Homo sapiens: one gene and its partner. The protein of the gene in region 1 purifies or fractionates together with the protein of each later gene. This does not show direct contact. Each region holds a gene or a part of one and is shown on either strand. Other genes may lie near its edges.

Region 1 (3,881 bases):
AAGAGATGTCCAATACATTTTACAAAACAGTATGTATAATGTGATTCCATTTATGCTAAAAAAACAAAAACCCAAATCATTCTTCATGTATACATAGTGACAGGATAAAGCTTTCATCTTCTAAAATTCAATATTGTTTATTTATTTAAAATGCTTTTAAAATGGCGAAATGTTGATAATTGTTAAAGCTGGGTAGTGGGTAAATGGGGATTTACTGCACTGTTCTCTTTACTTTTATACACAAGTGAAATTTCCTAAAATAAAAATTATTATTTTATTAAACACCACCTTGTATTATGGTGTAATTTTTAAGGGATTTTTTTTAACTGCAAAATAAAAGGGAGGTAGAAAAAATTCTGTTAGTCCAGGCCTTTGGCAAAGAAATAAAACCAAATGCTAATAAATTCAAAATATAGTCTAAATGGTTCAACCCTATTTTGAATCTGCTTACAAATGCTAATAAATTAGCAAACCTTTAATCATACAAAACAGGTTCTTATACTGATAGTCACATTTATGCCAACAACTCGCTTGGACTTAGAGGCAGCAATGATTTTATAAGCCTAGAACAGATGTATGCATTATTTAGAGAGGTGACCAGAAAACAAGTTGAAAGAGAAAAAAAAAAGGCAAATTTCTTTAAAAATTCTTTAGATACAATAAATATTAATATTCAGAGTTTCCACATTGACAACTAACATCTTAGACAAAAAGGGTGGAGCTACACAGTGGGTTTTGTTTGGATGGAAACTTCTTTGACAGAGGTAATACCGAACAGTGCCAGGAGGTGAGGCAACAATCTCCTTTCCTCCAAACACACTAAAGGTAGCCAAACTACCAAGTGGGTTCCTCTGCCCAGCTCAGCTGGTCAATTCTGCCTTTTTAACCTCCAGGTCAGCTTTTTCTCTGGCCTCCCTCCCCTTTCCTTGGCCTTTTATAGACTTTGTGATGTGGCACCTGCTCTTGTGTCATCTATATTCTTCCCAGGGTTTCTAAAATTTTTGAACAATATGAATATCACCTATGTCAAATAAAAATTCTTAATTGCATGCACAGTATGATTGCAACTTTGTGGAAATTACATATATGTGAACAGAAAGGAGGGAATACAACAAAACGAAACAGTTTTGATAGGGTAGCAGGGTTGTAAGTTGTATTGTATTGTTTTGTTCATTTTTAAGATTTCCCTTAAGGAGTTAAGGCTGCAGTTACAATATTTAAAGTTTGGTTTTAAAGATAAGTAAAAACAAAACAAAAAATTTTTTAAAGACTGAAATGTATGGGGCAATAAGGAACTAAAAAACCTCTCATGTTGACAAATGGCTATATAAATAATCTGCTTCTCAACAGTAAACCAGTCAGTAAACCAGTAACTGTGAAAAAAAGTCCACTGAAAGAAGCATTGCTGCTATATGTTATGTTGTCTACATGTCTGACATAAGCCTTGGAGCCCTACATGTATGGCTGAGGTTTTTGTTGTTTGCTGTTGATTTAAGGAAAGAAAGCCAACTATAAAATTTAAACGTTGTAAAAAAAAAAAAAAACTGCTGTTGACCAAAGGAAAATATTTAAGCTAATAAGGAAATACCTGATGCCTATGAGACCATGAACATTCCAGGAGGATGAATTCTAAAGTTAAGGTTGGCAATGGTCTCATTGATATGACACCAAAAGGCACAGGCAACCAAAAATAAACAAGTAAGACTATATCAAACTAAAAATTTCTGTACAGTAAAGGAAAAAATTAACAGAGTAAAAAGGCAAGCTACAGAATGGGAAAAAATATTTGCGAACTATACCTTGGTAAGGGGTTTATCTTTAAAATATTTTAGAAACTCCTACAACTCAACAGCAAAAATCCTATTAACCCAATGTAAAAATGGGCTAAAGACTTGAATAGACATTTCTCCATTCACAGAAATGGCCAACAGGCATATGAAAAGTTGCTCAACATCCCTAGTCATCAGGGAAATGCAAATCAAAACCCCGATGACATATCACCTCACACTTGTCAGGATGGCTGTTATCCAAAAAACAAAAGACAACAAGTGTTGGCAGGGCTGTGGAGAAATTGGAAACTCTGCATACTGCTGGTGGGAATATAAAATGGTGCAGCAGCTCTGCAAAACAGTATGGAGGTTCCTCAAAAAATTAAAAATATAGGCCGGGTACGGTGGCTCACGCCTGTAATTCAGCACTTTGGGAGGCCAAGACGTGCAGACTGCTTGAGCCCAGGACTTCAAGAACAGCCTGAGCAACATGGCAAGACCCCATCTCTACAAAAAAAAATACAAAAAATTAGCCAGGCATGGTGGCACATGCCTGTGGTCCCAGATACTTGGGAGGCTGAGGTGGGAGAATCACCTGAGCCTGTGAGGTGGAAGTTGCAGTGAGCCGAGATCATGCCATTGCACTCCAGCTTGGGCAACAGAGCGAGACCCTGTCTCAGTAAATAAATAAATAAATAAATAAATAATCAAACTGTCATATGATCCAGCAATCCTACTTCTGGCTAATTATTCCAAAGATTTAAAATCAGGATCTCAAAGAGATATGAGCCCTCCCATGTTCACTGAAGCATTATTTACAATAACCAAGATGTGGAAACAACCTAAATGTTCACTGACAGATGAATATGTAAAGAAAACATGGTACATACACACAGTGGAATACTATTTAGACTTTTTTAAATAAAAAAGGGCATTCTGCAATATGTGACAAGGTGGATGAACACTAACGACAATATGCTAAGGGAAATAAATAGGCACAAAATTTCAGTTAAGCAAGATGAATAAGCACTGAAGATCCACTGTACAACACTGTACACACAGTCAACAATAACGTATTGTATACTTAAAAATTTGTTGGGCCAGACATGGTAGCTGACGCTTGAAATCCCAGCGCTCTGGGAGGCTGAGGCAAGCGGATCACTTGAGCCCAGGAGTTCTAAACCAGCCTGGGCAACATGGTGAAACCTGGCTCCACAAAAATTAGCTGGGTGTGATGGTGCCCACCTGTAGTCCCAGCTACTTAGGAGGCTGAGGTGGGAGGATCACTTGGGCCTGGGGGGCAGAGGTTGAAGTGAGCTGTGATCACACCACTGCCCTCCAGCCTGGGCAACAGAGCAGACCCTGTCTCTAAAAAAAAAGAAAAAAATCTGGTTAGAGGGTAGCTCTCATGTTGTATGCTTACCACAATAAAATAAAAATCATTAAAAAAAAAGTCAGGGAGCTCATTCTTCCCCCGGCCTACGTAAGTATGGACGGATCAAGGTGGTACCAAAGGAGAGAAATCACAAACAAGGAGTCTGGCCTAAATACAGCCTTCTCTTCCTCTTCCTCTAATGCAGGAAGAGGGATCAGGTGGCAAGGTGTCAGGCTGAATTGCAAAGGTCAAGTGGAAATGATGTGACTGGCTGGGGCTGAGAAAACAGGCCTAAGGCAATGGAGACTGAGCTTTGCAGTAGCAGCAAGAAGAGGGACTCCCCCAGTTATTGCCAGGGTTCTAGGCAGAGTTACAGAAAAGGTAGTGTTCCTACCAGAGCTCTCTGACTAGTCCCTAAGTATCCAGGTCATCAGGTGACCCTCTTCCTAATTTATTCTGTAATTATGTTCTCTATGTGCCCGATGATCCAAATCTATTACCATCACCACTACTCCCAACCCTCAATCCAAACTAAGAATCACTATAGTCATCCCAGATAGATACTGATCCCAAAGCAGCAAATGACAAGAAGTTGGGAATGAATGATTGTGTCATAATTGGGTTTAGGGGTATAGACCAGGGAACCACAGAGGACAGTGCATGAAACTGGCCTTTCATCTCTTGTGCCACCGTTTTCCTGTGTTTCCTGTACCCTGCATCTCACCTCTCAGGGAGAA
Region 2 (3,517 bases), on another chromosome or scaffold:
AAGAGAGTTCTGATTTTAAGGAGTTTCACATCCTTGAAAACACATATATTATCTTTTTTTTTTTTTTTTTTTTTGAGACGGAGTCTCGCTCTGTCCCCCAGGCTGGAGTGCAGTGGCGCGATCTCGGCTCACTGCAAGCTCTGCCTCCTGGGTTCACACCATTCTCCTGCCTCAGCCTCCCAAGTAGCTGGGACTACAGGCACCCACCACCACGCCCAGCTAATTTTGTGTATTTTTAGTAGAGACGGGGTTTCACCTAGCCAGGATGGTCTCGATCTCCTGACCTTGTGATCCACCCACCTTGGCCTCCCAAAGTGCTAGGATTACAGGCGTGAGCCACTGCACCTGGTGTATATCATCTTTTTAATTTTAGCCTTTCTGGTGGTTGTGTAATGGCATCTTGTTATTGCCATAATTTGAATTTCCCTAATGACAAAAGAAATTGAGCATCTTTTCATGTGATTATTGACCATTTGAATATCCAAAGTTGCCCTTTTCTTTAAATTTGTAAAGTTGTTGTTTCTGTTTAGATTTCGTTGTTTGAGATGAGGTCTCTGTCACCTAGGCTGGAGTGCAGTGGCACCATCACAGCTCATTGCAGCCCTGACCTCCTGGGCTCAAGTGATCCTCCAACCTCAGTCACCCAAGTACAGGCATGTGCCACCACCACGCCCAGTAAATTAAAAAAAATATTTTGTAGAAAAGAGTTCTTACTATGATGTCCAGACTGGTCTTGAGCTTCTGGGCTGAAGCAATCCTCCCGCCTCATCCTCCCAAAGTGCTGTGCTTACAGGCATGAGCCACTGTGCCAGACCAAACTTTTTAAAATATATTTTGAATTTGAGTCTTTTATTAGATATGTGTATTACAAATATCTCCTACTATATAACTTTTAAGACTTTTTTAACATTTTAAGATTAAACATTAAAGTCAGTTTGTATGTCTTATTTTTACAAAGGGAATGAGTAAAATGTAAGTGAAATTATTTTCTGGACTTAAGTGAAATATATGTTACCTTTAATTTTTTTTATGGTGAAATTTTCTTTGGCTCTATTCCAAGAAGTTACCGTGTATACTATTTATAATTTTTCTTTCTTTCTTTTTTTCTTTCTTTCCTTTTTTTTTTTTTTTTTTTTTTTTTTTTTTTTTGACAGAGTCTCACTCTGTCACCAGGCTGGAGTGCAGTGGCGCGATCTTGGCTCACTGCAACTTCCACCTCCCAGGTTCAAGCGATTCTGCTGCCTCAGCCTCCTGAGTAGCTGGGACTACAGGCGTATACCACCACACCTGGCTAGTTTTTGTATTTTTAGTGGAGATGGGGTTTCACCATGTTGGCCAGGATGGTCTCAAATCTCCTGACCTCGTGATCCACCCACCTTGGCCTCCCAAAGTGCTGGAATTACAGGCATGAGCCACCGCGTCTGGCCTTATAATTTCTTTAAAAAAAAAAAAATTGTGTGATATTGAAGTGGCCTTGTGGTCTAGGGTAGTACCTGAGGTTTGCTGTCTCACAGCCACAGAGATCAAGGACGTGGACACACAAAGAGTGAGGTTAACAGCAGAAGTTTAGTAGGTGAGAGAGAGAATAGCTCTGTGCTACAGAGAGGTGTCCTGGAAAAATGTGTTGCCAGATCTGTGGTGAAATGCAAGGGGTTTTTTAGATGAGCTAGTGGGGAGGCAGTGTCTGTTTTAAATAGGGCATGAAAAACCGGTAAGGTCCAGGTGCACCATTTATATAGGGCATGAATTTCTGGCAGCCCCCACCCTAATTTTTTATCATGCAGGCAGGTTCTCTGCCTGAGCTGCACCATGTTGCCCATTTTTTTACTGTACACATGCTAACAAAAAAGAGAAGGTGGAGCTTTCATGGTGGACATGCCTGGCTCCCAGGTAGCCCTTTTCTGTTGGTTCAGCTGCTGGCATTCCCCCGTGCAAGCTTCCAGCTTGCTTATCTATGTTTGCAACTCAAGTTTTTCAGGCTGCTCTTCGTTAGAAAAGAAATGATTTTGGGGGCCGCTTTTTGTTAGAAGGGAAGCTCTGCCGAGGTCTCTTTTGCCCTCACTATCTGCCTAAATAATTTCTTTCTGCCTACTGTATCGATATAACTTCACACTTCTTGAAAATGTATTAGTAGAACTCCTTTATATCCTTTATCCAGATTATCTAATTATTAACGTTTAGCTACACTTTCCTTATTCTGTAGATGTTCTCTTTCTATGTATATCCATTACATATGTCTTCTGAAATACTTTAGAGTAATTTGTACACATTATGCACTTTTATCCATAAGTACCTTAAGTATGTATTTCCTAAGAACAAGTTTTCTGCTTACAAAACCACAACTCAATATTGGGAAATTTTAAATTGATATAATATTATTGTCTAATTATAGTCCATATCCAAATTTTACACAATAACAGTCCTTATAACTTTAATTTTTTTCTTGTTGGGGATCTAATCTAGGATCACACATTGCATTCAGTTGGTATGGCCTTTCATTGTCCTTAATATCCTTGACATTTTTGAAGAATACAGGCCAATTATGCTGTAGAATGGGCTTCTAGTTACATTTCTCTCATGTTTCTTCTTGTTTGGGTTGAGGTTATTCAGGTATATAAGACAGGAAGATCAAAGAAGTAATGTTTTGATGTCTGCAGGGAATTATACTGAAAGCCATATCATGTCTCTTTATCCCTTTAACTGCTGTTTTTAACTTTAATTGCTTTGCTAATCTATTGTAAAAGTACTATTTTTTCTTTTGTAATTAAAAACTGACTCATGGGGAGATACTTTGAGGCTATCTAAATAATCTTAATTTAATTCTTACTCTTTTTTGTGCTGTTTTAAAGAATTAATCTAACTATACTTTATCCCTTTCATTTTATTCAATCTCTCAGATACGTTTTCCCAGAATTACTTTTGAAACATTAGATGAACTTAGGAAATTTTATTATGGTCAGTCAGAAATCATTAAAAATGTATATATATATTGGCAGTTATGCTTCATTTTAACCAGATTGATTTGGGTCAATTAAAGGCTTAAGTTCTTTTAAACCTAAAACTTTCAAATTGGTAAATTTGGATTTTTGACCCCGTTTACTATAACACATTGGACTTTTTGAAGTGGAAATTTAGTTGTATTTATAGCCATCTACCATCCCTACCAGTACTGAATTTTCAGTTGTTTTCACTTAATATTATTAGAAAACCATAAGGCAAAATGTACCTCGTATAACTTGACTGTTGTACCAGGTATAATAATATGATGCTCACTTGTAACTGTCATGGGTCAGTAATAAAATTGAGGTTCTTGAAGAACTTACATATGCATGGAGGAAAATATTTCATAAGTCACGAATTAAAATACTTTTTTGTTTTTATATTGCAGATTGGTTTTTCAGCAGCAGATGCTGTAACAGGACTGAAATTGGTAGAAGAGGGAGTACCCAAAGAACATTTAGCCTTATTGGCAGTTCCAATGGTTCCTTTGCAGATAATACTGCCTCTGATTATCAGC

The links. The genes of interacting proteins can lie anywhere in the genome.
Region 2: the proteins of ENTPD7 (region 1) and SLC33A1 purify together in Homo sapiens (affinity purification with mass spectrometry; one large-scale study listed by BioGRID and IntAct). This does not show direct contact.

What each region holds. Positions count from the first base shown.
Region 1 is NC_000010.11:99,679,863-99,683,743, reverse strand, and holds part of ENTPD7 (ectonucleoside triphosphate diphosphohydrolase 7), read right to left. Parts: coding exon 3,869-3,881; intron 1-3,868. UniProt on the Homo sapiens protein: Catalyzes the hydrolysis of nucleoside triphosphates and diphosphates in a calcium- or magnesium-dependent manner. Preferentially hydrolyzes nucleoside 5'-triphosphates, with substrate preference for UTP > GTP > CTP.
Region 2 is NC_000003.12:155,833,913-155,837,429, reverse strand, and holds part of SLC33A1 (acetyl-coenzyme A transporter 1), read left to right. Parts: intron 1-3,388; coding exon 3,389-3,517. UniProt on the Homo sapiens protein: Acetyl-CoA transporter that mediates active acetyl-CoA import through the endoplasmic reticulum (ER) membrane into the ER lumen where specific ER-based acetyl-CoA:lysine acetyltransferases are responsible for the acetylation of ER-based protein substrates, such as BACE1.